7 linked regions of the Homo sapiens genome follow. The protein of the gene in region 6 purifies or fractionates together with the protein of the main gene of each other region. This does not show direct contact. Each region holds a gene or a part of one and is shown on either strand. Other genes may lie near its edges. The genes, in order: ANAPC2, EARS2, EXOC5, RUFY2, BTAF1, NPTN and COG5.

Region 1 (4,277 bases), on a different chromosome or scaffold from region 6:
TGCCCAGTCCCTCTGGCCACCAGGGCACAGCCTTCGGCAGAGCCTCACTGCCAGAGACGAGGCGTGTTGGCCTAGAGGTCATTCGCCAGCCTCAGCAATTCCAACCGAACCCGCACAACGTCCCAACCTCGCCCGAGACCTCCTGGCCGAGCGTGTGGAGGTGGGCACAGGCTGAGCAGAGGGTGACCCCAGGGCTCCTTCTAAAGGCCAGAGGCGCAGGAATGGAGCTGGAGGTCTGGCGGGTAGCAAGCACTAAGCCCTAGGACGTGGCTGCCTGAGCCGTGGCCCGGGCGTGACGTGGACCTTCACGTGCCGCTCCCTGAGCACCCTGGGTCGGGGGCGGCCCGGGATTCTCTCAGGAGGCTACATTCCCAGTGCAGATGTGTAGGCCTAGGTGGCCCCTCACCTGCTGCTGAGGAGCAGGCCCTGCCAGGCTGAGAGAGAGGCCCAGGCTAGAGGAGGATCCTGGGGGGCCCCACAAAGCCACCAGGACAGAAAAGGATGATCTGACTTGCTTTAATCTGCACACTGCGGGGGTGGGGGTGGGCATGCTCCTCAGCAGTGCATTCTGGGACACGGGCGGGCGGGGGCTGGCACGGGAGGACGAGAGCACCTGCAGGGCAGCGCCTGGCGGGCGGGCGGGCGGGCGGGCGATGTGTCAGCTGCAGTTCTTGGGCAGGCGGTAGACGCCGGCCGAGTAGACGAGCTGCTGGTCCCGCACCTTCTTCTGCAGGTAGCCCTGCAGCTCCTGCAGGTCAATCTCGGCCAGTGCAGGCCCAGTCACCACAAACATGCGGAGCATGTTGTAGATACGATCCAGTGAGAGGCTCTCCAGGTTGGTCAGCATGGCCTGGATGTACGTCCAGAAGAGCTGCGGACACAGGCCAGCCCCCGTCAGGCACCTGCAGGCCTCGCCCCCGCCCCCTGGCCCCCCGTGGGGCCTGCACGCGCACCAGCAGCTCCTCCTCCTTCTGGTCGGCCTGGGAGGCCATGCCGGAGTCGCTCTCGTCGTCACTGTCAATGAGCACCATGTTGTCCCGGTCCTGAGGCCGCTCCTCCTCAATGACAGAGAAGGTGCCGGGGGGCTCCTCACGCAGCACACCCTGCTGCAGCCACACGGACATCCGCCGCCGCAGCAGCGCCACGGGCATCTTCACCGCCTTGCTCAGTTCCTCCAGGGTCCAGCTGGCTGCGTGCAGAGTCACCGGGACGCTGGGCAGCCTGGGCACGGGCTGCACCTCCCCTGCCTCCCGTCAGCCGAGAGGTCGGGGGGCTCCCGGGCCACCCTGCCTTGCCCGTGGGAAAGGGAAGGGTGCCGCCTGCTGGCGCAGCTGCCCCAAACCACACCCTCACTGGGGAACAGCCCCTCACCCACAGCTGGGCCGTGTGGCCGGGGCAGGCCAGCTAGGGGCTGGTGGGCTCACCTTGGTCCTGAAAATACAGCAAGATCACCGCCTGTACTGGGGTGACCGCCACAGACAGCGTGCGGTCGGCCAGCTCCACGTCCATGGTCACCAGGCCCAGGGTGTGCTTCCAACTGAGGGTCCGCATGGCCTAAGGAGGGCCAGGGTCAGCACGGGCAGCTCGGCTGCAGGGCGCTCAGGCCCGTGGGCTCTGCCACCTGGTACCAGTGAGAAAGGGGCTCCCAGAGCCACCTGCCCCACCCCACCCTGGCAGGCAGGTGAGCAGCGAGAGCACAGGACTGGGTGGGGTCCCCACCTGCTCAGCCACCATGGAAGGGCAATGGGGCCAGCATCATAAGGTGTGTCCCGAAAAGGCTACAGGGGCCTCCTGACCCCCAGTGCTTGGAAATGTGGCCATATTTGCAAACAGGGTTGATGCAGATGTAACTGAGGTGCATCCTAACCCAACTGACTGGGGTCCTTCTAAGAAAAGGAAAGATAGGAAGACACAGGCAGGCGGGGAGGGGGCCACACGAAGACAGAGACCACCTGGAGCAACGCGGCCACAAGCCAAGAAACACCAAGGGCTGTGGCAAACACCAGAAGCTGGGGGGCAACGGAGGTCTCTAAGAGGGTTCAGAGGGAACGGGGCTGCCAGTACTTTCATCTTGGACTTCCAGCCTCCAAAACTAAGACAATCTATTTCTGTTTTTTAAGCCACCCAGTTTGTGACACTTTGTTACAGCAGCCACAGTAAACGAACAGATTTTGGTACCAGGAAGGGCCAGGAGGGGTGCTGCCAAAACCTAACACCAAGAACTGTGGCAGCAGCTTTGGAAGTGGGTGATGGGGAGAGGCTGGAAGAACTGGTGAGGCCTGCACGACTGCTGGTAGAAAGGCATGAAGACAAGCCTGGAAATGGCTGGAAGAGGAGAGCTGCCGCCGTCTTGGAGAATGCACACAGCATCACAGACTGGATGTCGGCAGCAATGCCGACCCAACAGGTGCTTCCAGTGAGGTCTCAGATGGAAATGACCGTGCTACTGGGAACCGGAGGAGGCAGCAGAGAGCTTGGCTGGCTGCTGCTCTGCTGTTGGGTGCGAAGTGGGACCTGCAGCTGATGAGCCTGGACATCAAGCTGAGATTTCCAAGCAGTGTGGAAGGTGCCACCTGGCTTCTCCTTGCTACTTATAGCAGAATGCAAGAGGGAAACAATCAGTGAGGCAGGGACCATTAAGCAAAAAGGCACCAGCCCTTGGGGATCTGAAAAATACTCTATCCAGGCAGCTCTGAGACGTGGCCAAGGGTGTGGCTGGACCAGGGTTTGCTAGACATGAGGTGTGACCTGTGTATCCAACTAACCATCTCAGCAGCAGACAGGGACAGGTGGGGCCTCCGGGAAAGGGCTGCGGACCCGCCTGTCTGAAGGCTTCGGCACTGGTGAGCTGCATAAGCCAACAAGGTGTGAGAATTTTACACCCGCAGAAGTGCTGCCAGGCTGGAGTGAAAGGAAGGCAGGCTCCAAGAGCAGAGCCGCCGAGGCCAAGGCTGACGGAGCAGGGGGCCAAAGAGGATTCGCAGGCCTGGAAGTCAAGTGGAATTTCGGCTGCTGGGTTTGGACTCGCTGTCCTTTTTCCTCCCAGTTTTCCCTTTTGGGGTGGGAATGTGTATGCTTGTCTTACGGCTGAACTTTTGAAACAGATCATCTGTTGGCTGATTTCACGGCGTCCCAGCTGGAGGAATGGCGCGCACTCCAGCCTCACCTGTACCTTGTTTAGATCTATTTACGTAGAGGAATGGCGCACACTCCAGCCTCACCTGGACCTCGTTAAGATGCATTTACAGGCTGAGATGTGTGTGGAACTTTGTGTGGATGGTAGTTAGATGAGATTTTGGACTTGGAGTTGATGCTGAAATGGTGAAGACTTTTGGGGACACTGGGGCTGTCACTTGCACGTGGGAGGGGCCCACCATGGGGCAAATTGTCATGCACTGAATTGTGCCCCTCGAAAAATGACACATGAACCCCTAACTCCCGGTGCCTCTGATGAGATCTTATTTGGAAATACGGTCATTAAAGATATAATTAAGATGACGTCACCCTGGAATAGAGAGAGTGTTCTTCTAAGAGGGAGATAGGAACAGAGACACGGGGGAACATCACGGGCGACGCGGCAGAGACCAGAGCGAGGCACCCACAGGCCCCGGAGCTCCTGGAGCCCCCAGAAGCTGGAAGAGGGGAGGAAGCAGCCTCCCCTAGAGCCTTCGGAGGGCCCTGCTGACCCTGACTTTAGACTTCTGACTTCTGTAAAATGATATGTTTCTTTTAAGCCCGCTGGTTTGTGGTACTTTGTTCTGGTAGCACTGGGGCACTGACACACCTGCTCTGTGGGCCAAGGGCTCCTGAGTCCTTCCAGGATCCGGCAGCTTCTAATGGAAACAAACCCCTCTTTATGGACAGAAAATGGAAGTGGAGTCAGTGGCTTGCTAGGTCCTAGTTCTGGCTCCAAGGCCATGACCTCCACAAACGCCGCCACTGGTCAGCCTGCCGCAGGACACATGCAAGGGCTCAGGGGTGACGCTGTGGGCTGCATGGCCAGCCACGTGTCCAACAAGGTCGCTCGGCCAGGAGCTCTGCTGGTGGGACCTCTCAGCACAGCCCCGGGGCCTCCCTGAGCCACTCCTGTGTCCCACTGAAGTTAAGACAAAGGGCACTAGAGTGTGGCTGTCCCAGCACATCAGGCCTGAGCAACAGGAAGTGGCTGAGTCATGCCTGGGACCCAAGGCAGGACCCTGGAGGGAGGCCATTGGGGCCTTGCCTGGAAGCAACGCTGGAGAGCCTGAGGCAGCCAGAGGGGCAGGGGGAAAGGGACC
Region 2 (3,500 bases), on a different chromosome or scaffold from region 6:
AATGTATTTGTCTCTTGACAGAATATTTTTTTTCTCATCTCATTCTGTGACCCAGGCTGGAGTGCAGTAGCATGATCACAGCTCATTGCAGCCTTGAATCTCCTGGGTTCAAGCAATCCTACATCCTCAGCCTCTCAAGTAGCTGTGACCACAGCCATGTACCACCACACACAGAGTGTTATGTTTTGTTTTGTTTTGAGATGGGGTCTCACTCTGTCACCCAGATTGGAGTGCAGTGGTGTGATATTGGCTCAAGGCAACTTCTGCCTCCTGGGCTCAAGCAGTCCTCTCATCTCAGCCTCCCAAACAGCTGGAACCACAGGTGTGTGCCGCCATGCCCGGCAAATTTTTTTTGTATTTTTTGGTAGAGACGGGGTTTCTCCGTGTTGCCTAGGCTGGTCTCAAACTCCTGAGCATAGGAGATCCACCCACCTCAGCCTCCCAAAGTGCTGGGATTATAGGTGTGAGCCATCATGCCCGGCTGGCACACAGCTAGTTTTTAAATTTTTGTAGAGATGGAATTCCCCTATTTTGCCCAGGCTGGTATGAAACTCAAGCGATCTTCCCACCTCAGCTTCCCAAAGTGCTGGGATTATAGGCATGAGCCACCATGCCTGGCCAACAGATTTTTTTTTTTTGTTAAATTATAGTCATGCCCTGTTGTGGAATCCTTGCAGCCATTTATTTATTTATTTATTTTAAGCTTTCAGGATTTGTATTAAATCCTAGTCTAATTTAACGGTATCTGATGTTACACACATCATCTCATGGTGAACGTGTTTAATAAGCGAAAGCAAATCAGACAGCTTATCTAAGTCGTTATTTTTTGTGGACTAAACAGTAAGGTAACAACTACCCAGAACCCTATGGGTCATGATGGACACTTGCTCAGTTTTCATACAAGCTGTGTTGGTTATCAAAGTATATCTGCTAATATTTAATAAAGTGAAATGTCATTGGGGTGGAAAAGTCAAGCCTAGACATTTGGTTGGAAAAGAACAGATCAAGTATGGATTTCACAAACCAAAAGTTTATAAACTCAATGCAATACAAGTCCTTTCTATTGTAAAAGCTTAGTTGAAACTAAAAGATCTGTAAAAACTATTACTTTGGGCCTTAAACAGTACTAGCTCTTATGAGCAAAAAAAGGACACAACTGCAGCCTGGGCAACGTGGTGAAACCCTATCTATATTAAAGTACAAAAATTAGCTGGGCTTGGTGGTGTGTGCCCATAATCTCAGCTACTTAGGAGGCTGAGGCAGGAGAATCAGCTGAACTAGGGAGATGGAGGTTGCAGTGAGCTGAGATTGTGCCACTGCACTCCAGCCTGGGAGACAGAATGAGACCCTGTCTCAAAAAAAAAAAAAAAAAAAAAAGGAGGGGGGCCATAACTGTTGAGAATGTATTACTTGGTTTTATTTTACATTAGGTGGTAGGTACAAAGCAATCCTTCTTAATAAAGCTGACAGTTAGCTTCCCTTAGGACTTTTTTTTCCAGACAGGGTCTTGCTGTGTCACCCAGGCTGGAGCGATGCAATCATGACTCACCACAGCCTTGACTTCCTGGGCTCAAGCAATCCTGCTTCAGTCTCCCAAGTGGGTGGAACTACACACATGTACCCACCATGCCCGGCTAATTCTTTTTTTTTCTTAAATTTCTAGTAGAGACAAGGTCTCGTTACCCAGGTTGGTTTTGAACTCCTGGGCTCAAGCAGTTCTCCTGCCTTGTCCTCCCGAAATGCTGGGATTACAGGAGTGAGCCACCGCACTTGGACAGAACATATTCAATAATGCACATTTAAAACAAGTATTCATCTTACAAGTTGTTCTGTAATCCAAACATATGACAGCTTGGAGAACAACATTTAGAAAACAGAAGCCAATGTAAAAAGACAGATTAATACAACTAGAAGCCAGGCACGGTGGCTCACGCCTGTAATCCCAGCACTTTGGGAGGCTGAGGTAGGCAGATCACCTGAGGTCAGGAATTCGAGACCAGCTTGGCCAACGTGGTGAAACCCCATCTCTGCTGAAATTAGCTGGGCATGGTGGCGTGCACCTGTAATCCCAGCTACTTGGGAGCCTGGGAGGCAGAGGCTACAGTGAGCCAAGATCACGCCGCTGCACTCCAGCCTGGGTGACAGAGCGAGACTCCATCTCAAAACAAAAAACAAAAAAACCCAACTAGGATAGTGTAGGTTTTGTATGGCTCAGACTTTACAGTTTTCTTACTGCATCATCAATGTATCGATTAGAATATCTGTTCCAGCTAGGTGCGGTGGCTCATGCCTGTAATCCCAGCACTTTGGGAGGCCAAGGTGGGCAGATTGCTAGAGCCCAGCCTTCGCAACATGGTGAGCCCCCATTTCTACTAAAAAAAATACAAAAATTAGCCAGGCATGGTGGTGCACGCCTGTAGTCCCAGCTACTTGGGAGGCTGAGGTGGGAGAATCACTTTACCCTTGGGAATGTCTAGGCTGCAGTGAGCTGTGATCACTCTACTGTACTCCAGCCTGGGTGACAGAGTGAGACCCTGACTCAAAAAAAAAAAAAAAGAAAGAAAAAGAAAAGAAAAGAAAGAAACCCTGTCTCTACTAAAAATACAAAAAATTAGCTGGGTATAGTCGTGCATACCTGTAGTCCTAGCTGCTCGGGAGGCTGAGATGAGAGAATCACATGAGCCCAGGAAGTCAAGACTGCAGTGAGCCATGATTGCACCACTGCATTCCAGCCTGATCAACGAGAGTGAGACCTTGTCCCCTGTCTCAGTAAATGAATGAATGAATGAATGTTTCTTCAGCTGGCCCCATTGCTGTGGATTTAAAGAAATACCTTTTCTTCCTGGTTTTATTTAACCTTTGAGATCCATCCAATAATCTCTAATACCATCAATTAGCACTTCCCCTTTAACATCCCAAACACTAAGGTACCTCATTTTCCCAATCTGAAACATGTTATCAGCTGAGTACAGTGGCCTGTAATCTAATCACAGCACTTTGGGAGGCTGAGGAGGGTGGATCACTTGAGACTAGGAGTTCGAGACCAGCCTGGGCAACATGGTGAAACCCCATCTCTATATGAAATTTAAAAAAGAAAATAAACATGTTATTATGTTTACTGCCGCTGCTCTGTTTGGAAGATGACAGAGCTCCCAAAGTTTTGCCAGTCTTTTGTTCCTTTACAAGTTTTTCTGGAGCAACTTACTTTTTCTTCTTTAACTTTTTGTCAAACTCACTGTCAGAATTCCTGCCAGAAGAGCTTGAAGAAACAAGTTCCTTTGATTCAGACATAATGCTGCCCTGCTTCTGCAGCTGAACACCCTCCTGTTCACTCATGTGCAACTGACTCATTTGTAAAAATTTCTTTTTTGGCCGGGCACGGTGGCTCACACCTGTAATCCCAGCACTATGGGAGGCCGAGGCGGGTAGATCACGAGATCAGGAGTTCGAGACCAGCCTGACCAACGTGGTGAAACCCCATTTCTACTAAAAATATAAAA
Region 3 (3,500 bases), on a different chromosome or scaffold from region 6:
GGTGGTAATTTAGCCAGGAGGTGGAAGACATCTCTCAGCTCTGCCTCTTACTAGTTGTGTGATCTTGGCAAGTTACCCAACCTCTTTGTACCTCAGTTTTCTCATCTGTAAAATGGGGGAAATAATGGTATCTACTTCAGAAGGTTTTTTTGATGACTAAATTGAGTTGAGAAATTTAAATTGCTTAGAAGCATACTATTAAGAGAGTAGTATCCATTTTAAAAAATTAGGTGTTGGCCACTTTCAATTTAAGTGGATTGAGATGAGAACTAGATTAGAGATCTATCAGGGAGGGAACACTTCAGCCTTCTCAGTCTCAGTTGACTCAGAGTAAATGATCCAAGAAGTAGGAGATTATAGTAGGAGAGGATTACAAAAAGGGGCTGTGGAAGGTTGTATTTTTCAGGATGGTCACAAGATCTGCCATCCTACATTGTGATGTTTATGCCCCTCCCATAGGAAGTAGGTTCTGTGTTCACTTCTTGAATCTGTACAGGCCTATGACTATAGAAGTGATGCTATGTAGTGATTTGCAAGGTTAGGTAACCTCTTGGACTCTAGCAGCCATGCCAAGAGAAAGCCCATGCAGCCCTTTGAAAGAACCAAGGCCCTTTGCCCTTGGCTCTGGCTGAACTCCCAGCTAACAGTAAACACCAACTTGCCATCTTGGAAGACTATCTTCTAGCCAAGTTGAGCAGCCCCAGCTTATTTCATGTGGAGCAGAGACCAGGTTTCCCTGCTGAGCCCTCCTCCAATCAGATTTGTGAACAGTATGATTATTGTTATTTTAGGCCACTAACTATTTGAGTGGTTGTTAGGCAGCAATAGATAACTGTAACAGAGGCCGATCAATTTCTTACCTGCACCAAGATCTAATAGCCTTCTGCTGGTCTTAGTGGAGACAGTGGTAGAGGTAGAGGTTGATGCTTAAGAGTAATAGAGTTCCATTTAAGTATTTTATGCTTTGGAGTTCTCCAGTCCAAGCAACTTGGAAGTGAACTTTTGGAATAAGCAAGTCATTAAATTGAGGACAGTATTATAGACTGCACATGTGTGTAATTAATCTAAAATACTGAGTCCCTGGTGTTCCCAGGAAATTAGATAGTTGAGGTGTGTGTGTGCCCACATGTGTGAGAGAGATTTGAAAGAGTGATTGATTGCCTTGTTCTCTTAAAAGTGGATTGCAATTTCATGTAACACCGTGCAAATAAACATAACCTACAAATTAAACGAAAGTTCTAGTTGAGTGATAAATAATTTAAAAGTTTGATTGTCAATAGTTTATGTATATATATATTTTTAAAACTTAGCAAACTTTTCTGATGTTACTTCCTTGAAGCCGAAATTTGAAAATGAGAAAATATAGTTATTTACATATCTTTGCTTATTCAAGTTATAATAAACGAAAGAAGCAAATGATTCTTTCACTTGTTTAATTTCATTTCCAAGGTGTCTATTAAATGCCTGTAAGAATATTTAACGTGTGTATTTGGCAATACACTTAATTTGATTTGAAATGCTAATGGCAGATTTTATTAAATATTTAAAGTAATTTCACAGTCTATAAATGTTAAAGGCACTATAATAGAGTGGGAAAAATATCTGGGTTAGAATCCTGGTTTAGTACCTTGATAAGACTTAAATTTCATTTCCTCAGTTTCTTTATTTATAAAAATGAGATGAAAGAGCTGGGCTGTGATGATATTTAAAGAACATTCTTGCATTACGAATTTTAAATCTAATTATATGATTCTGCTGAGACTAGTGTAACAGGAATTGTAACATTTGTTACCTTTCCCTTTTGGACATAGACATAATATATATAACTTTACTGTTCGAAATGAGATATATTCTATCCTGGAAAAATATTTTGCTTAAGAGAATCTAAAATATTTTGTAAGATTCTAAACTACCATCGTTTAAATAGTCTTCAAAACAATTTTGATAACATGATTAATTGGCTAATTTCATAGTTTAAAGGGCTTCAAGATTGAATGTTAACATTGACTAATTTTAAAAAGTAAAATTATTTATTTTGTAGTGTTTGTGCAAGTAGTTTTCAAAATACTTTTTCAAAGTTTGCTTTAGTTATATTAGTGTCTTAATGAGCTTTATTTTTCTACCTTTTCATACTACCTTTGAAATCCATTTTGCTAGCCTGAGACAAAATATTTTGTGGTGCTTTTTTAAAAACTCAGTATTCAATAAATATAACTTATTTATTAATATACAGAAAACACGTAAAGAATCTCACTGAAAAATCAAAGAAAATGGGGTTAGAAAGTAGAGGCCGAATATTATAAAATTCTTTTAGTTCTTTGTAGTGCCAGAATTGTATTAGGCTCATATTTGGTTTCTGTTAGAATCTTTGATTGATAGTACCATGTAATGCCTGTTCTTTATTTCTGGGTTGTGGGGTGGTGGTCCTGCCTTTTTGGTTTTGGATGTATGGATCAAGAGCATGACTTTCAAGACCCTCTGCAGGGGTTTCAGCCATGGCCCCAACTAGCTAGTGTTTTGGTATGCTCGGCATTGTTCTGTTGACTACAGCTGGAAAGCAAGAGAAATGTATGACACAGCATCCCCTTGCTTTCAATTTAAGTATGGAGAAAAGAGTGAAACTTATGAAAATGATTCTAAATCAATAAATGACAAAATGACAATTAGTAATGTTCTGTGTTGGGATTTGAATTTTTAAGCTTCATAGGGGTTTAAGAGTGGAGAAATTAATGGAGACCATGTAAGGAAGGAACCCTTCAAAGAAGAAACGGGAATAGAGCCAGGCTTTGAATAATGGTATAGCAGTGTTTGAATTGTTGGAGGAGAAAGGCCATACTTGGTGGGGTGAGTTACCTGGCCACAGGTTAGGAAGCAGGAGTAGCATGGGCTTGAAAAGAAGACTGGAATAGTCTGACGGAAGTGTGGCTGTTTGTTTTGAGGTACAGAGAAATTTGGGTAGGTGGTACAAGATAAGAACCCTAAAGGGTAGATATAAGAGTGTGAACTTGGCTGCATGTGGTGACTCACACCTGTAATCCGAGCATTTCCAGAGACTGAGGCGGGCAGATCACTTGAGGCCAGCAGTTAGAGACTAGCCTGGCCAACATGGCAAAACCCCATCTCTACTAAAAATATAAAAATTAGCCGGATGTGATGGCGCACACTTGTAATACCAGCTACTCAGGAGGCTGAGACATGAGACTTGCTTGAACCCAGGAGGCGGAGCCGAGATTGTACCACTGCATTGCAGACTGGGTGACAGAGTGAGACTGTATCTCAAAAAAAAAAAAAGAAAAGTGTGTGTGAATTTGATAGTGTAGTAGGAATTATATAGGGAAGTTTCTCACTAAAAGGAGGTAGTGTTTTAATGATTTGTTAGACAGTGGTATCCATAATAAATTTAAGGAAAATACATGATAGGCAGTACTTTTGAACCGATGGGTTAGTTGGTTTAACAAGATACAGAAATATCTCTCTGAAACGATCTGAGACTTACTTTA
Region 4 (4,281 bases), on a different chromosome or scaffold from region 6:
GCGCCTGTGGTCCCAGCTACTAGGGAGGCTGAGGTGGGAGGATCACTTGAGCCTGGGAGGCAGAGGTTGCAGTGAGCTGAGATCGCGCCACTGCACTCCAGCATGAGTGACAGAGTGAGACCCTGTCTGAAAAAAATAAAAAATCTCTTCTAGCTAATAGGATATGCCTATCTAATTCCACTTGAGTCACTACTGGCCCTTACGATGACTAGGGCTCATAATCCTGGGAAATGTGAACCAAGATGGATCCAGGGATGAAGTCTGACTTTTTTTTTTTTTTTTTTGAGACGGAATCTTGGGATTACAGGCACGCGCCACCACGCCCGGCTAATTTTTGTATTTTTAGTAGATATGAGGTTTCACCATGTTAGCCAGACTGGTCTCGAACTTCTGACCGGGTGATCCGCCCGCCTTGGCCTCCCGAGTAGCTGGGACTACAGGAACATGCCACTACGTCTGCCTAAATTTTGTATTTTTAGTAGAGACGGAGTTTCACCATGTTGGTCAGGCTGGTCTCGAACTCCTGACCTCGTGATCTATCCAGCTCAGCCTCTCAAAGTGCTGGGATTACAGGCATGAGCCACCATACCCAGCCGAGGTCTGAATTTTAGTGCTTGTGTGGATATTGCTGTGGCACATAATGAAATATTTTTGAATTGTTTTCTCTCTTTTTTCACTTTAGCTTTTTGTAATGAGCTTTACCAAATTGTTTTAGGGCGGGCTGTGTGGCTCAGGCGTTATCCTAGCACTTTGGGAGGTCGAGATGGGCGGATCACCAGGTGAAGAGATCGAGACCACCCTGGCCAACATGGTGAAACCCCGTCTTTACTAAAAATACAAAAATTAGCCGGGCGGGGTGGCGCGCGCCTGTCATCCCAGCTACTCAGGAGGCTGAGGCAGGAGAATCCCTTGAACCCGGGAGGCAGAGTTTGCAGTGAGCCAAGATCACGCCACTGCACTCCAGCCTGGTGACAGAGCGAGACTCCATCTCAAAAAAAAAAAAAAAAAAACAACCCAAAAAACAAAAAAAAGTCGTAATTTGGGACTAACTAGTTTTATTAGGTTTCTGCCTACTGTTAATTGCTTCAGATTTTCTAAATTCTTTTGGTCCCCTTTGTGTTTGTGAAGGTGAATGGGCAGTAGTCAGGCGTGTTAGATCAGGCCCCACCAGCCCGGTGGAAGCAACGTTTGCGTGTGGCCGGCCGCCCCTTGAAATCCGGCCTTCGCGCTCCAGCGAAGCCCCCGGGACACGGGACCGAGGGCCCAGCACTCTGGCTCCTCACACATGTGGTCTCCTTCACGTTCCTTTCCTTCTCCTCGCGGTCCCAGCGGATGCGAGGAGGCTTAGAGACGGCGGGCTTCTCTCCCGCCCGCCGCAGGGTCCGCGGGTCCCCGCCCCGCCCGGGGCGCCGCTCCCCCTGGGGCCGCCCGGGCGCCCTCCCGCCGCCGGGGGCGCTGTGGGCTGCAGCGGGCCTGGCTGCAGATGCGGTGGTGGCCGCCGAGCGCCTGGAAGGAGCTGCTGGACAGGCCGAGGGAGCCTCCGCCCGAGACCGCGCAGCCGCCGCCGCCATGGGTAAGGCGAGCGGGCCGAAACCGAACGCTAGGCCCTCAGTCCCGGGCTGAGGGCCGCGGCCAGGCGGGGTGGACTGGGAGCTGGGGGAGACGCCGAGGCCGCCAGTCGGAACTGGGGCCCGAACCCAGGATGGGCGGGGACTGCCTGGGACTCGGGGGCTCCCGGGGTCGTCATGGCAACGCGCCCCCTCCCTTGTTCCGGCCCGTTCCCGCCCGGGTTCTGAGGCATAGTGGCCGAGGGCTCGAGGTGCCACGGCGTCCAGGAGCGAGGACAGGGCCAGGCAGGGTGTCACTCCCGGGTCGGGGAGCAGGCGGGGAGGGGCGATGACTTTTCAGGTTTGGGGGTGGCGGAGGGAAGACGCATCTCAGGTTTTGGCCTGGGTGCCTGACGCCGAGGGCGGGAGACGGGGAATGCTGACGCGCAGGAGCCTGGGTGAGCCCGCCGCGATGGTCCTGGGGGGCCCCCAGGCCTCTGGGCAGCCTTGCTGGGGGGAGGGGGCAGGAAGAGAGGCAGGGAAGGGGCTCTAGGCCCCGGCAAGGTGCGGGCACTGGCCCTGGTACTCCTTGCGCGCCTGCGGCCGGGTTTGGGGGTCGCGTACGGGCCGGAGAAGTCCTGTAGCGCAGCCGGGGCGTGGCCGCGGTGTGAACGCCCCTCGGCGTGGGAACTGCCGGTGCCCAGCACCGATCTGCCTCCCAGCAGCTGCAAAACACCCTTTGTGTGGTTGTCGCATCGCACGTTAGGAATTATGATGGGCTGTGTTAAAAATGAGAGTTGCCACGGATTATGAAACATGAAGTGGTTTCACTCCCGAAAAATAGTGGGAGTCAGACCACGATGCAGATTTGAAGGAATTCGTGTGTGGACATTTTTCCACCAGGCAGTTTGGCCATAGCAGTTGTGGCTGTTTGCATTTTAGGTTGCTTAGGATTCAGTGTCAGGCTTCATGCCTAGCTATCTAGAAATCGGAGCTGGAATACTAGATCATTGGAGACTCTGGGTTTTTTGTTGTTGTTGTTGTTCAGTGAAGGAAAAACGGGCACATTGATTACTTGTAAATTTGTCAGAGATTATGAAATGTTATACTAAGTGCTTCGTTTTTCCACACCTTAGTTTTGTCATCTGTGTTTGTTGAAGGTATTCCCACCAGTCACAACAGTGATGAGATGATGGGGAAGCGTCTGAATTTCTAAGTAAACTGAGAATAAAATTTGCGGGAAGGAGGACAATATTTTTGTGAATTGAAAATATCTTACTTGATGATACTGTGTCTTAAAAATATCAATTAAAAATCAGGCCTTTTAGAATTTGCATCTATTAACTTGGTATTCAGACTGGCGCTGTGGGCATCCTCAACTGTGTGGATGGGTGAGGAACATTAATGTAAAACTGGTCTCTGCTTTTATTTTCTCTTTGAAAATAAAACAGTCATGCAATACAGAACTACAGTCAGAATGAAGAAGCCAGACAGAAAGAGGGTAGACGAAAGAATTGGACGGCTTCTTCTGTGTCCCCTTGTCAGTGTATTTTACCTGTCATGTTTGTTGTGGATGACACTGGAATCCTAGAATTTTAACTACCTTTTATTTTATTGCCAGTTTATTCTGAACATTTTTGCCTTGGAATTCATCCTAAGACCGTACCTGCTATCTACCTTTTGCATGAGGCCCTTAAACCTGTTGTCTCTCACCCCAAATTTATCTCCATAGAAGATCATTTTAAAAAACTCATTCTCTATGAAGAGGTACCAGGAAAGTTAAATACAGGAGAATGGCAGATTTGCAGGATCTTGAGAATAATTCATTAACTTTGGCTGGAGTGGTCATGGAAATTTTCTTTTTTCTTTCTTTCTTTCTTTTTCTTTTTTTTTTTTTTGTGAGACGGAGATTCGCTCTGTCACCAGATTGGAGTGCAGTGGCGCTATCTCAGCTCACTGCAATCTCCGCCTCCTGGGTTCAAGTGACTCTCCTGCTTCAGCCTCCCGAGTAGCTGGGACTACAGCCGCGCACCACCATGCCCAGCTAATTTTTGTATTTTTAGTAGAGACGGGGTTTCACCATGTTGGCCAGGATGGTCTCAATCTCTTGACCTCATGATCCACCCGCCTTGGCCTCCCAAAGTGCTGGGATTACAGGCGTGAGCCACCGCGCCTGGCCGGAAATTTTTTACAGTATATGTGAGAGATGTAAAGAGAAGTTAATCAAGGGTGTGGTTTAGCTGGGGAGAATTTGTCAACCAAGGAACAGCAAACTACTGTTGGTTTTTATAGGGGAAGGGAATGGTTTGTATATTTTTCATTGTCATGTCTTACAAATGATGTTGGATTCCTTTCTTGTGTTTTCAGCTACAAAAGACCCCACAGCTGTAGAGAGAGCAAACTTGTTAAACATGGCTAAACTGAGTATCAAAGGACTCATTGAATCTGCTCTGAGCTTTGGCCGCACTTTGGATTCTGACTATCCCCCCTTGCAGCAATTCTTTGTTGTTATGGAACATTGCCTGAAACACGGTCTTAAAGGTATCATGAGATTTTAAAAAATTAATTCATTTTAGAATTTCCGTTTTTCAAGTGCCCTTGAGAATGGGTTATTTTTTGAGGCCATAATTACGTTACTGTGCACTAAAAAATATTGAGTGGATTGATTTTGGGAGAAAATATCTTATGACTATGTTTTCTAATAATGGAATAATAAATGGTCTTCAGAAAATGC
Region 5 (3,500 bases), on a different chromosome or scaffold from region 6:
GTTCGATCAGGGATGGAGGGTAGAAAAAAATGTCTTGAAGGAAATAGCATAGCTTGGTTGTACATTTTCACCATTCTTCATTTAACCAATATTTACTGAGTGCTTTCTATGTTATAGGTGCTAGAGGTATAGCAGAGAAAAAAACTGTACTCTCCATTCTCATGGAGTTTATGGTCCAGGGTAGAGTGGGGTAACTTATCTAGCAAGCACCTGCCCTTACACCTGGCTTTGGTATGGTTTCACACCTTCATATTGATTCTTAGTGTTCTGTGTGATATCTTTATGTTTAAAACAACATAACATTAACATAGTTTCAAATTACCCACAACATGACCTAGAAAGTATATGTTTAAAAACACTAGAGAATTTGTTGGAAGTTGTTTCTTTTGACCTTAATGATAATATGTGCACTGTACTAAGTTCCACGTATTAAGTACACACTGTACACTATACTAAGTAATGGTCATTATCTTTCCTTACTTCCTGAGTAACACAGAAAAGTAAACATTCAAATCATCTATATTTAAAATTTTACTGTACTTTTGCCACGTGTAAAAAATGTATAACTAAATGGCTACTCTTGACTGGTCATGCTTTTTTAGTTAAGGCCACAAAGCTGTCTTTTTGAGGTATTCTGTCAGTTGACCTTTCCTAATTTATCAGAGAGGTTAAATATATTTTGAAAATATCAGTGAGGCTTTTTGCCCCTCCCCTCCCGAGATGTTTTAGAGTGGAAATACAGTATGTATTTGTTTATTAACTATGACGTAGTAATCTAGGACATGTTTTATTGTTTAAAATGCATGACATTTCTTTCTGTTTATTTTTATGGCTTTACTGTTATGAATTAACATAATGCAAACATCTGGAGAGGAGAGGGGTTAGATTGCAACTGCTAGCATAACCTCTACTACTATGTACTCTTTCCTTTTTCTAGGCAGTCTTTAGAACAGTTGCCTGAAATCACAGGTTACATGAATCATATCTTGTTTAGCTAATTCTCGGAATTGACATCCAGATTGAAAATGGGCCAGATTTCTTATTCTCAATAAATTTATAACCAGTGGATATTACAAAATATAATTTTCTTATGTTTTACTTATCTTCTATAGTCTTTGGTACCTTCCATGCAACTTGACATCTGTTACCTGTGTCTCCTCCATCTGTCTGTCTATCCTTCAGAGAATGAAGAATGTTACTTTTTCCTGCTAGCTGTGTGCAACAGAAGTTTTAGCCAAAAGTAGTATGGGAGTAAGTACTGTGTTCCCTCAGTCAGCCCTCCTTTTAACTTTCCCTTCTCTTCTGACCATCTAGCTTCCTTCAGACCTCTCCCTCACCAAGGGCCCTGTCTACCCTCCAACATAATACTGACTCTGTCTCACGTTCTTTTCCTCTTCCCCACAAGTTCACTGTACCAGCCTTTTCCACCGTGGCCTGGCCCTGATGCTTACCCTGCTTGCCTCATAGCTGGCTATCCTGAGATAACAGGTCAGACTGCCCTCTTGTCAGATCTTTGTCTGCTCATCTCTTTGTTCTTCCTTTTATGTGGTGTCCAATCTGCTGTCCTGAAGAGAGGAATGGAGAACTACGAAAGTGGCTTTAAATCAAGAGAATCAAAGAAGCATTCTTGTGTCTCCATTCCTCTATTCAGGGAGGCAATTTTGGTTACCATCCAAAGTGGAAGAAGTAAGGATAAACAGGCTTGGAATGGATGAGAGAATGAGCTGATCTGCTACCCTCAGGGCATTTGGCTGGTGGGAGAGCAGAGGTGACCTGACATAGCATTGGGATAAAAGGATCTGCAAAAAGGAGAATCAAGAGGAACTGTGTGTCTGTGGGACAGTATCAGCAATTAGGTTAGAGAGGAGTCTAAGGTCTTTGGGCAGGAGTTCTAAGTGAAGCTGGGTAGCAGAGGACCAAAGGAAAAGTTTAAGAAGGATGGAAATTATTGAAGGAATACAGTGCCTATTGCATGGCATTTTTCAGCTTGCTATTTGGGACAAGCGTAACTGCCTCATTCAGAAGGCTGAAGTACTGCTGTGCTGATCTTTTCAGTTACTGAAACATTACATTACCAACTGATTTTTTATGTAAAACTGCTGTCACAGATTAAGGATGTTTCTCAAAGGAAGCAGGAAAAAAAAAGGTAATATAAAATATTTTTTCTTTCCTTAAAGTTGGTTCTTAAACTTGTCCCCAAGAAACTTGAACTTTTCCTTAAGTATAGTTTTAGTTACAGTAAATGTCAACTACATAACAAATATTTGAATACTGTGCAAAGTGTTGTGCGAGACAAAAAGAATGATTGAAGGAGATGAAGCCTAATGAGGAAAATTAGACCTCATGTGACAAATTAATGTGAGAGATGCCACAAAAAAATATAATAAATACTTAAGTAGCTGTTCAAGATGAGAATTCATGTGGATTTCAGAAAAGGAAGTAATCTCTGTTGCATAGTAGTTTGAAATGGTTTCAAGAAGGTGAAGAACTTCAGCTGAATCCTGTTGGATGGGAGCTAGCTGAACAGTTGAACAAAGAGAAAAATACTTTATTTGTTTGCTGTAGCACATTTTATTCTCTTGTTAGAGAAGCAAGCTCAGGCACACCCGAAGATCACCTCTAGTGGTGTATCTGGTTAAATTCCAGGTGATATACCCATATTCTCAGCTGTGCCTCCCACCAACAGTTCCCAGTCTCACACATGGGGCCATTATATCTGCACAGCTGCCTGCTGTTGCAGTGAGGCAGAGTACATACCCACTGCAACCCCAACCAGTGACCATTCTGGGGATCTGGCAGAAACTGGCCAGGAAACCACCCCCTTGAGGAGGGGTGAGCCACTGTAACCCTAGCTTGAAGGGGTGTGAGAGACATTCTGAGTGGAGGAAACAGTATAGGTAAAATTGTGGAAACCAAAAATACCCACATTTGGGAGATACTTTTTGTTTTGGATTACTTTCTGGTAGGTAAGTGTGAGCCATTGAAAGTTTTAAAGTAAGGTAGTGATTTATTCGGGGGCGTTTTAGGAAGTTAATCTGGCAACAGGATGACAAGGCAGTTGGGAGTGTGAAACTGGCACTCTCAGATGGCCTGGATTTGGGGAATATTTGTTCTGGATATAATTTAAACAAATAACAGTATACAGTTTCCTCAGGGAGAAACTGATGAGAGTTGAGCAGTCAAGGATTGAATATGAGTATTCTCCCGATATTCATATTAAGAGTATTAAGAATAGGAGAACTAAGGAAAGAAGAGTTTGGAGAACAGGGTAATATAATGTGCAACTTAGGAAGGAAAGTATTGTAAGAATGGGGTGCTTGCTGGTCGCAGCTGTCAAAGAAGAGTCAAGAAAAATTGACCTTGTAAAAAACTATTGGATTTGGAGCCTAAGAGTTCATTGGTGACCTTCAGGTGTGGTATTTTGGTGTAGAAAGATGGAACCTTGATTTATATGGATTAAATTGTGTATGATGAGGAAATAATATTTTAAACACTTGTTC
Region 6 (3,500 bases):
GGTAAACACTTATGACCTCTTAACACTCCCAAGTTTGTGTCAAATATAATGTACCTCTTCGTTTATTCCAAAAGGAGTGTACGTATATATCTATATGAAAATTTGGGGAGAAGCACATGGGAAGGAAGCAGACAGGTAAGTTTGTCCTTCCTATGGAGTGCACAGGGGTTGAGGGGAACTGGCTAAAGAAGGAAAAGGCAGAGAAGAAGGAAACTCACCAAAGAACATTCAACTTTTTCTTTTGTTTAATGATTACTTCCAGGAAAGGAGAAGAAAAGCGGGCAGGGGTGGAAGCAGGATGGAGTTTGAGAGAAAGACAGAAAGAGACAGAGGAGAAAAACAGAATGGAAATACTGGAGCAAGGGCAGGGTGTGAAGATGGAGAGTGGAGCCTGGCCCACACTGGCTGTCAGGAAGGGAAGGAGAGAAGGCAAACATTGCCATCATTCCAGCATCTCAGATTTTTCACCCCAATGCAACAACAACGAAGTAAACGCTGCTTTCATTACAATACTCTCCCAAGAGACTAGAGCAAGGAGGTTTTACTTTGCACTTACCCTGCCGTCATCTCTTTTAAGGGTAGGATTCATTCACTGTCTATAATAACTTAGTTTAAAAGAGGTACTTTCCCTCTAGGAAGCTGTTCAGATTTGCTGGCCACAGATGTCTCCTATAACAAACTGGTCCCCCATTTGATTTCAGTAACCAAGAAAACTCTTACAAAAAAAGAGCTGCTTCCCTGGGCAGGTGTCTGCACTTATCCAACAGAACAATCCTAACCATTTCTCAAATCTAACCTACCACATGCACTGTGATAGCAACCTCATAAGCGCGGTGACTTCTTAGGGCAAAGACTAGACCTCTGCTGGGAACACGCTAGGCTGCTGCATCACTCTCACCAGTGGCAGCCAGCCTTGCCTTAAAATTTAAAAATCAGGTTCTGAAGTCCATCTCTGCCTTCTCTTACCTGACTTTTTAGCTTCTCAACCTTTCCAAAAGGCAGGCTGAGGAAGGTGGTATTGGCAAAGCAAAAGCATTCTGGGGGGATAAAAAGGCCCTTTTCAGGAATGAGGCATAACTGATCCCACAGAGCCAAAGCTGAAAACACACGAAAGACAGGCAACTCTTTCCCTTTACTCCCAGGTCTAAATAAAGGTGCACTCTTGCCTTGGGAGTCCTAATATGTAGCAGGAAAGAAATACCTGGAGAGAAAAAGCATTAGGAGTACATGAAATCCCAAAGAAAGCAGGTTCACTTCATAAAGTAGGAAAGTAAAACTCATGGGGACACTCCCAGGTTGCAGGAAACTAGAGATTCATTTGCAGAGGCCGTCTGCTCCCAGCCAACGTCCTTCCCACGCCTCTGCCCAGCTCACTGCTGAGTGCACATCTGGAGGGAGTCACCAGATATTGTCAGTGTCATCAACAAACCTCCTCACCAGCCACTCACTCTACTTACTGCAGGCAGAGAGATTTATAACTGCTGAGAAGAAAGGAAAAGATGGGGAAGGGGCTGTTGCTCTCAAACATGTCCTCCCAGAGAGTCTAAAGCCACTGGCATGCCTCTGGGGCCACATTCTTTCTGAGGGAGCACCAGATGTCACTTTGTATTCTCCACTGGACAGCCAGCTCTGTGGGGCAGGATACAGCACCACAGGTGCACAAACACAGGCCCCAGAACAGCTGGACTACAGCTGGCAACCCCACCATCACCCCGGGTAGGCTACCACTGAGCCCAGGGGCACACCCATCTGTCTAGTCTAGCCAGGGACAGACTAGTGGTGGTAACAGTCGGCCAATTAATTTCTGTACGCCGGTCATGTTATAGGGTGGGGATGGGGAGCCAGCTGGGAACCTGAAGTACTGCAGATACAAGTCTCCATCAGCAGCTTCCCCCTTCACAGGAAAAATCGATCACCAAAAATTTCCCAAGGCTTTTCTGACTCTAGGCATATCCAATAACCTAAGATTTCAGCTCTTGCTCTTTCCAGTGCTCAGTGGTGTGCTGTGGTTCTGCTGCTACCATCTCCTCCCTTCTCTGACCCTAGGCCAGCTTGAGGGCACAGCCTCGGGGCATGGACTCCATTTGTTCCGCCTTTGCTATCTCTGTCTTACACTAGATGGGTGGATACATCAGACTCTCCTTTGTCTGTGAGACACAGATGGAAAGCCACCCAGCAGAGAGCGCTGGAAACCTATCAAAGGGACCAACCAAGGAACCAAAAGCTGGCTTGTTCCAATGGCTTTTCTGAGAACAGTCTGACTGGGCTGGGGCAGTTACCTACAGGGGCTACACCAGGCAACCATGTGACAACCAGTTAGATACCTTAAATCTGCCTGAAAGGCCAGGTGGCCTGCCATCTTGGGGTGGCTTCTAGGCTTGACTTGGATTCTCCTCAAGCTCAATCTGCCTGATGATCTGTATTGAAGGAGGACAGAGCTGAACAAAGAGACTGACAGCTGCCCATTCACCACATGGGGCCTGAAAGGCAGATGGGACTAGGGTTTGGAAAACACCCAAACAGAGGGAGAGAGCTAAGGACAGCTCTAGATGGCTAATGCAAAAAAAATAAAAATAAAATAAAAATAAAAAATAAAAATAAAAAACTCTTACGGGTAGGGGGTTAGGAACTGGTATAAGAATTTTCCTTCTTTCCTTTAGGGATTGAATCCCAACATCCCTATAGTCCTCTTTGGGTACTTGGAAACCACCCGAAGGAACCAACCCCAGCAGTACAGCTATTTTGTAGGGATGCTCTTACCGTCAGGAACCTCATCTGGCCTCTTCCTCTTCTCATACACAACAATGATCACCACAAGGATGATAATTTCAGCCAGAATTCCCAAGAAAGGCCAGAGTGGGGCCAGGTGGCTCCGCACCCTGAGGACAGTGACAACAGAGGCGGAGCCAATGGCGTTGGTGGCATTACATTCATACTCGCCAGGGTCTTCCGTGATCTGCAGGTTCACAATGTTCAACTCAGTGTAATTTTCCTTGTTGATGATGAAGAAGCGGCCAGAGGTATTGACAATGTCCTGCAAAAAAGTGAGAATACACAAAGGTGAGAGTGAGTAACTGAGCTAATGTTCAAGAGAGGGTGACACTGCTCTCCGTTCTTTTTAGGCACCAGCCAGAATGAGGAAGCAGTGTCTAGGAACATTTCATTAATGATTTCCCTTCAGTATCAACAACAACAAATCAACTTCTGACAGAGCCAGGCAAGCCTCCCTTACCATCGGTCCTCCAGACTTCCCCGACTTCCACGAAGTGAGTGCAGGTCCTACTGCCTGGAGACTCAGAAAAGTCCAACAACCTAGTAAATGCTGCCTCCAACACCAGGTAAGAAACCACAGCAGAAAGAGGACGGCAGAAGGAGGGGTACAACCCCTACAGTCAGGCATGCCTCGGGGACCTCAGGCCTCTCTGATGACCTCAGAGTCAGCACACTGACTTCACACTTGGTGAGTTCTGAGGAAGTCTCCTTAAACTTCCTCCACAAAC
Region 7 (3,500 bases), on a different chromosome or scaffold from region 6:
TACTTACAAGCCATACATCTGATACGGGGATTAACGTCCAAAATATATAAGGAACTCAAATCAATAACAAGAAAACAACCTGATTTAAACATAGGCAAAGGACCTGAACAGACATTTCTCAAAAGAAGACATACAAATGGCCAGTAGATATGTGAAAAAACATTCAACATCACTAATCATCAGGGGAATGCAAATTAAAACCACAATGAGATTGCACCTCACACCTGTCAGAATTGACTTATCAAAAAGATGAAAGATACCGAGTGTGAAAGACGATGTACAGAAAAGGGAACCCTTGTATACTGTGGTTGGAATGTAAATTAGGCAGCCATTATGGAAAACTGTAAGGACGTTTCTCAAAAAACTAAAAACAGAACTACCACATGATCCAGCAGTCCCACTTCTGGATACATAACCTAAGAACTTGAAATCAGTATGTCAAAAGATATACGCACTTCCATGTTCATTGCAGCATTACTTACAATGGCCAAGTTATGGAATCAATCTAAATGTCCACCAACATTTAGATTGATAAATGGATAAAGAAAATGTGGTATACATACACAATGGAATACCATCCAGCCTTCAGAAAGACAGGAATTCTGTTAATTGCAACAAATAGATGAACCTACAGAACATTATGCTAAGTGAAGTAAGCCAGACACCAAAAGACAAATACCACATGACCTCACATATCTGTTGTCTAAAACAACCGAATACATAGAAACAGAGAGTAGAATGGCAGTTAGCAGCTATGGGGTGGAGGGAATAGAGAGATGTTGGTCAAAGGGTACAAAGTTGCAGTTAGGAGGAATAAATGATAAGTATTTAAGGTGATGAGTATGATTACCTTGATTCAGTCATTCCACACTGTATACATATAACATTACTGTGTATCCCCTTATTATATATTATTATAATTCATCAAAAATAAACATTAAAAAAATGAAATAGATTGGCACCATTTTCGGATAGGGAGGCTTCTTTTATTTGTTTGTTTTTGCAGCCTGGCCTTGTGGAGTGACAAACCTAGAGTAAAGCTAGGCTATGCAGTTGTCTGAATCTGGGAAAACCAAACCCCACATGAAGATGGCCGTCATTTACTAAGGCTCCCCTGTACCCAAGCGCCACTCCATCATGTGATGATACTGCAAACAAAAATGTTGCACCATACACCCTTCAGCAGCCTTGCTGTTGTTGGCACAGTCTTATACCTGTATGAAATCCCTTCCTGCTGGAACATAGGCCTACTTCTTCTATCTCTATCTGCTTCTGAAAGTGACGGACCTCTGGTTAGCATCCTATTTATAGTAACCACTGCTGTATTTGAAGATAATTAAGTTCAACTCATTCTCTTGCTCTAAGCATTTTAGTCATATCTGTTGTTCTTCTATAGACCATCACCAATTTCTCTACGTCATTCTCAGAATATGGAAACACTTAACTTGCTTTTTGAAAAAGATTCAGCATGATGTAGCCAGTGATCTCATTTATTAGAAAATATCAGGTGTTAGCTAGTTTTGGTATATCTCTTTCCTATAAATATTTCACATTCTTTTAATATATTCTTTAAAGAGCAATTATAAACATTTATAAATTATAAATAGTATTTCATGGAGCATCAGCTGGTATCATTTGTTGATCCAAATTAAAGCCTTTCCAAACCTCATCATCTAGAGGAAAAAACTGCATGCCATGTGTACTGTTACATAACCATTTCCACAGTCAGAATTCTGTTGGACTGATCTGATTAAATAGCACAAGAGCAGAGAGATCTTTGCCAAGAATTTGTATAGGGAAAGCAGCATTTTCTGTCATTGCAAAGCATAAAATGCTATTTCAGGATCCATTATTGATGCATTCAGTTAGCAGGCAAAACATGTGAGTGGATGGAGAATTGAGAGGCTGGGAGGGACCTTGAGAGGCCAGAGAGTAGCACTTGTATGATTCATCCAAGACAGATGGTTGTCTATTTCATTCTTAATAATCTTTAGGTAAATGGATTCTAAAATTCCTTCAGTAATCCTCCTGGCATCTAAACCACTTTTTGAAATGTAATTTTTAAACATTGTTTTCTGCTAACGCTTATCAAAAAGTAATTAATGTCTTTTATACCATTAAGGGAAAACATTACAAAGGATTGAAATAGCAGCATTGGTGGGGAGAGGGGTACAAAATCAAAGAGTGTGATTTAGTGCAGCGGTGCTGAAAAGGGCTGCTTTTTCTTTTACAGGTCATTATCCAGCTCAGGAAAACCTGATGTTCCTTGTTCTCTGTACATGAAGGAGCTACAAGGTTTCATTGCCAGAGTTATGAGTGACTATTTTAAACACTTTGAATGCTTGGATTTTGTCTTTGACAACACTGAGGCTATTGCCCAAAGAGCTGTTGAACTTTTTATCCGCCATGCCAGTCTCATAAGACCTCTTGGTGAAGGTGGGAAAATGCGACTTGCTGCTGATTTTGCACAGGTACATTGATGAATTACTACAAAAGAAAAAATGTTTTGGCCTCAATATCATCTATTAAATGAAAGAATGTGTTTTCATCGGTGTTTTTAAAGAGTTGCAGCACAAAGAAAAGTAAGCCCACTTAAGCATAAATAGTTAAAAAAAAAAAGGGAGAGTTTAAAGATACTTTTATACCAGATATATTTTTCTTTGTATTTAACAAAATAATTATCCCTCTCTTTGGTATTTCAAGGTTAAGGTGAAATAGCTCATTCCACAGGAAAGCAGCACTTCCCATTTTTATTTCATATGGGATTTTCTCACTATTTTACTGTCCCAATAGGTCAAACCTTGCTGACCAATAATGTAGGCAATGAAATCATATTTCAAACAGTGAAAAGAGACCGCTTGTTGCCATGTCACCATTCCGAGGCAGTGTTCCCATTCCTTTAAATGCACAGTGGGCCAGGTAGACATAGAGTCTGATTATTTGTTCTCTCTCTATCAGGTAGAGTACAGTTCTTCTCTGTGGCTAGCCTTGAAATCATTTCAGGCTATCTGATGTGTGTGAGAGATAGAATGACATTAAAATAGCAAAACATTATCAGCTCTTATAGAAAGCGTTTTCTTTGTCCTTTAGACAGATTTTTTAAAGCCTTTCAGTAGGCAATGAAGAAAAACCCCAAACATGCTTTCATTAAAAGATTCAGAAACAAAGATGATTGTTATTTTTGTATAGCATACCAAGGGTAAAATCTTTTTCTTTTTGAGACAGAGTCTTGCTCTGTCGCCCAGGTTGGAGTGCAGTGGCACAATCTCAGCTCACTGCAACCTCCACCTCCTGGGTTCAAGTGATTCCTCTGCCTCAGCTTCCCGAGTAGCTGGAACTACAGGCACGCGCCACCACGCCTGGATAATTTTTGTATTTTTAGTACAGACAGGGTTTAACCGTATTGGCCAAGCTGGTCTCAAACTCCTGACCTTGTGATCCACCCGCCTTGGCCTCCCAAAGTGTTGGGATTACAGGCGTGAGCCACCACACCTGGCTGG

Evidence for each region.
Region 1: the proteins of NPTN (region 6) and ANAPC2 purify together in Homo sapiens (co-immunoprecipitation; 2 studies listed by BioGRID and IntAct, with this or other methods). This does not show direct contact.
Region 2: the proteins of NPTN (region 6) and EARS2 purify together in Homo sapiens (co-immunoprecipitation; 2 studies listed by BioGRID and IntAct, with this or other methods). This does not show direct contact.
Region 3: the proteins of NPTN (region 6) and EXOC5 purify together in Homo sapiens (co-immunoprecipitation; 2 studies listed by BioGRID and IntAct, with this or other methods). This does not show direct contact.
Region 4: the proteins of NPTN (region 6) and RUFY2 purify together in Homo sapiens (co-immunoprecipitation; 2 studies listed by BioGRID and IntAct, with this or other methods). This does not show direct contact.
Region 5: the proteins of NPTN (region 6) and BTAF1 purify together in Homo sapiens (co-immunoprecipitation; 2 studies listed by BioGRID and IntAct, with this or other methods). This does not show direct contact.
Region 7: the proteins of NPTN (region 6) and COG5 purify together in Homo sapiens (co-immunoprecipitation; 2 studies listed by BioGRID and IntAct, with this or other methods). This does not show direct contact.

Annotation. Positions count from the first base shown.
Region 1 is NC_000009.12:137,174,284-137,178,560, forward strand, and holds the end of ANAPC2 (anaphase-promoting complex subunit 2), read right to left. Parts: intron 3,834-4,277; coding exon of another isoform or gene 3,785-3,833; intron 3,499-3,784; exon of another isoform or gene 1,555-3,498; coding exon 1,425-1,554; exon of another isoform or gene 1,233-1,424; coding exon of another isoform or gene 1,190-1,232; coding exon 954-1,189; exon of another isoform or gene 872-953; coding exon 659-871; 3' UTR 501-658; downstream 1-500. UniProt on the Homo sapiens protein: Together with the RING-H2 protein ANAPC11, constitutes the catalytic component of the anaphase promoting complex/cyclosome (APC/C), a cell cycle-regulated E3 ubiquitin ligase that controls progression through mitosis and the G1 phase of the cell cycle.
Region 2 is NC_000016.10:23,536,851-23,540,350, reverse strand, and holds part of EARS2 (nondiscriminating glutamyl-tRNA synthetase EARS2, mitochondrial), read left to right. Parts: intron 1-2,175; exon of another isoform or gene 2,176-2,268; intron 2,269-2,796; exon of another isoform or gene 2,797-2,967; intron 2,968-3,118; exon of another isoform or gene 3,119-3,347; intron 3,348-3,500. UniProt on the Homo sapiens protein: Non-discriminating glutamyl-tRNA synthetase that catalyzes aminoacylation of both mitochondrial tRNA(Glu) and tRNA(Gln) and participates in RNA aminoacylation for mitochondrial protein translation.
Region 3 is NC_000014.9:57,258,906-57,262,405, reverse strand, and holds part of EXOC5 (exocyst complex component 5), read left to right. Parts: intron 1-3,500. UniProt on the Homo sapiens protein: Component of the exocyst complex involved in the docking of exocytic vesicles with fusion sites on the plasma membrane.
Region 4 is NC_000010.11:68,404,478-68,408,758, reverse strand, and holds the start of RUFY2 (RUN and FYVE domain-containing protein 2), read left to right. Parts: upstream 1-1,481; 5' UTR 1,482-1,569; coding exon 1,570-1,573; exon of another isoform or gene 1,574-1,896; coding exon of another isoform or gene 1,897-2,005; exon of another isoform or gene 2,006-2,934; coding exon of another isoform or gene 2,935-2,938; intron 2,939-3,293; exon of another isoform or gene 3,294-3,314; intron 3,315-3,914; coding exon 3,915-4,088; intron 4,089-4,281.
Region 5 is NC_000010.11:91,930,270-91,933,769, forward strand, and holds part of BTAF1 (TATA-binding protein-associated factor 172), read left to right. Parts: intron 1-1,112; exon of another isoform or gene 1,113-1,251; intron 1,252-3,500. UniProt on the Homo sapiens protein: Regulates transcription in association with TATA binding protein (TBP). Removes TBP from the TATA box in an ATP-dependent manner.
Region 6 is NC_000015.10:73,567,390-73,570,889, forward strand, and holds part of NPTN (neuroplastin isoform b precursor), read right to left. Parts: intron 3,035-3,500; coding exon 2,761-3,034; intron 2,418-2,760; coding exon of another isoform or gene 2,401-2,417; exon of another isoform or gene 2,325-2,400; intron 2,155-2,324; exon of another isoform or gene 1-2,154. UniProt on the Homo sapiens protein: Probable homophilic and heterophilic cell adhesion molecule involved in long term potentiation at hippocampal excitatory synapses through activation of p38MAPK. May also regulate neurite outgrowth by activating the FGFR1 signaling pathway.
Region 7 is NC_000007.14:107,235,421-107,238,920, reverse strand, and holds part of COG5 (conserved oligomeric Golgi complex subunit 5), read left to right. Parts: intron 1-2,233; coding exon 2,234-2,471; intron 2,472-3,500.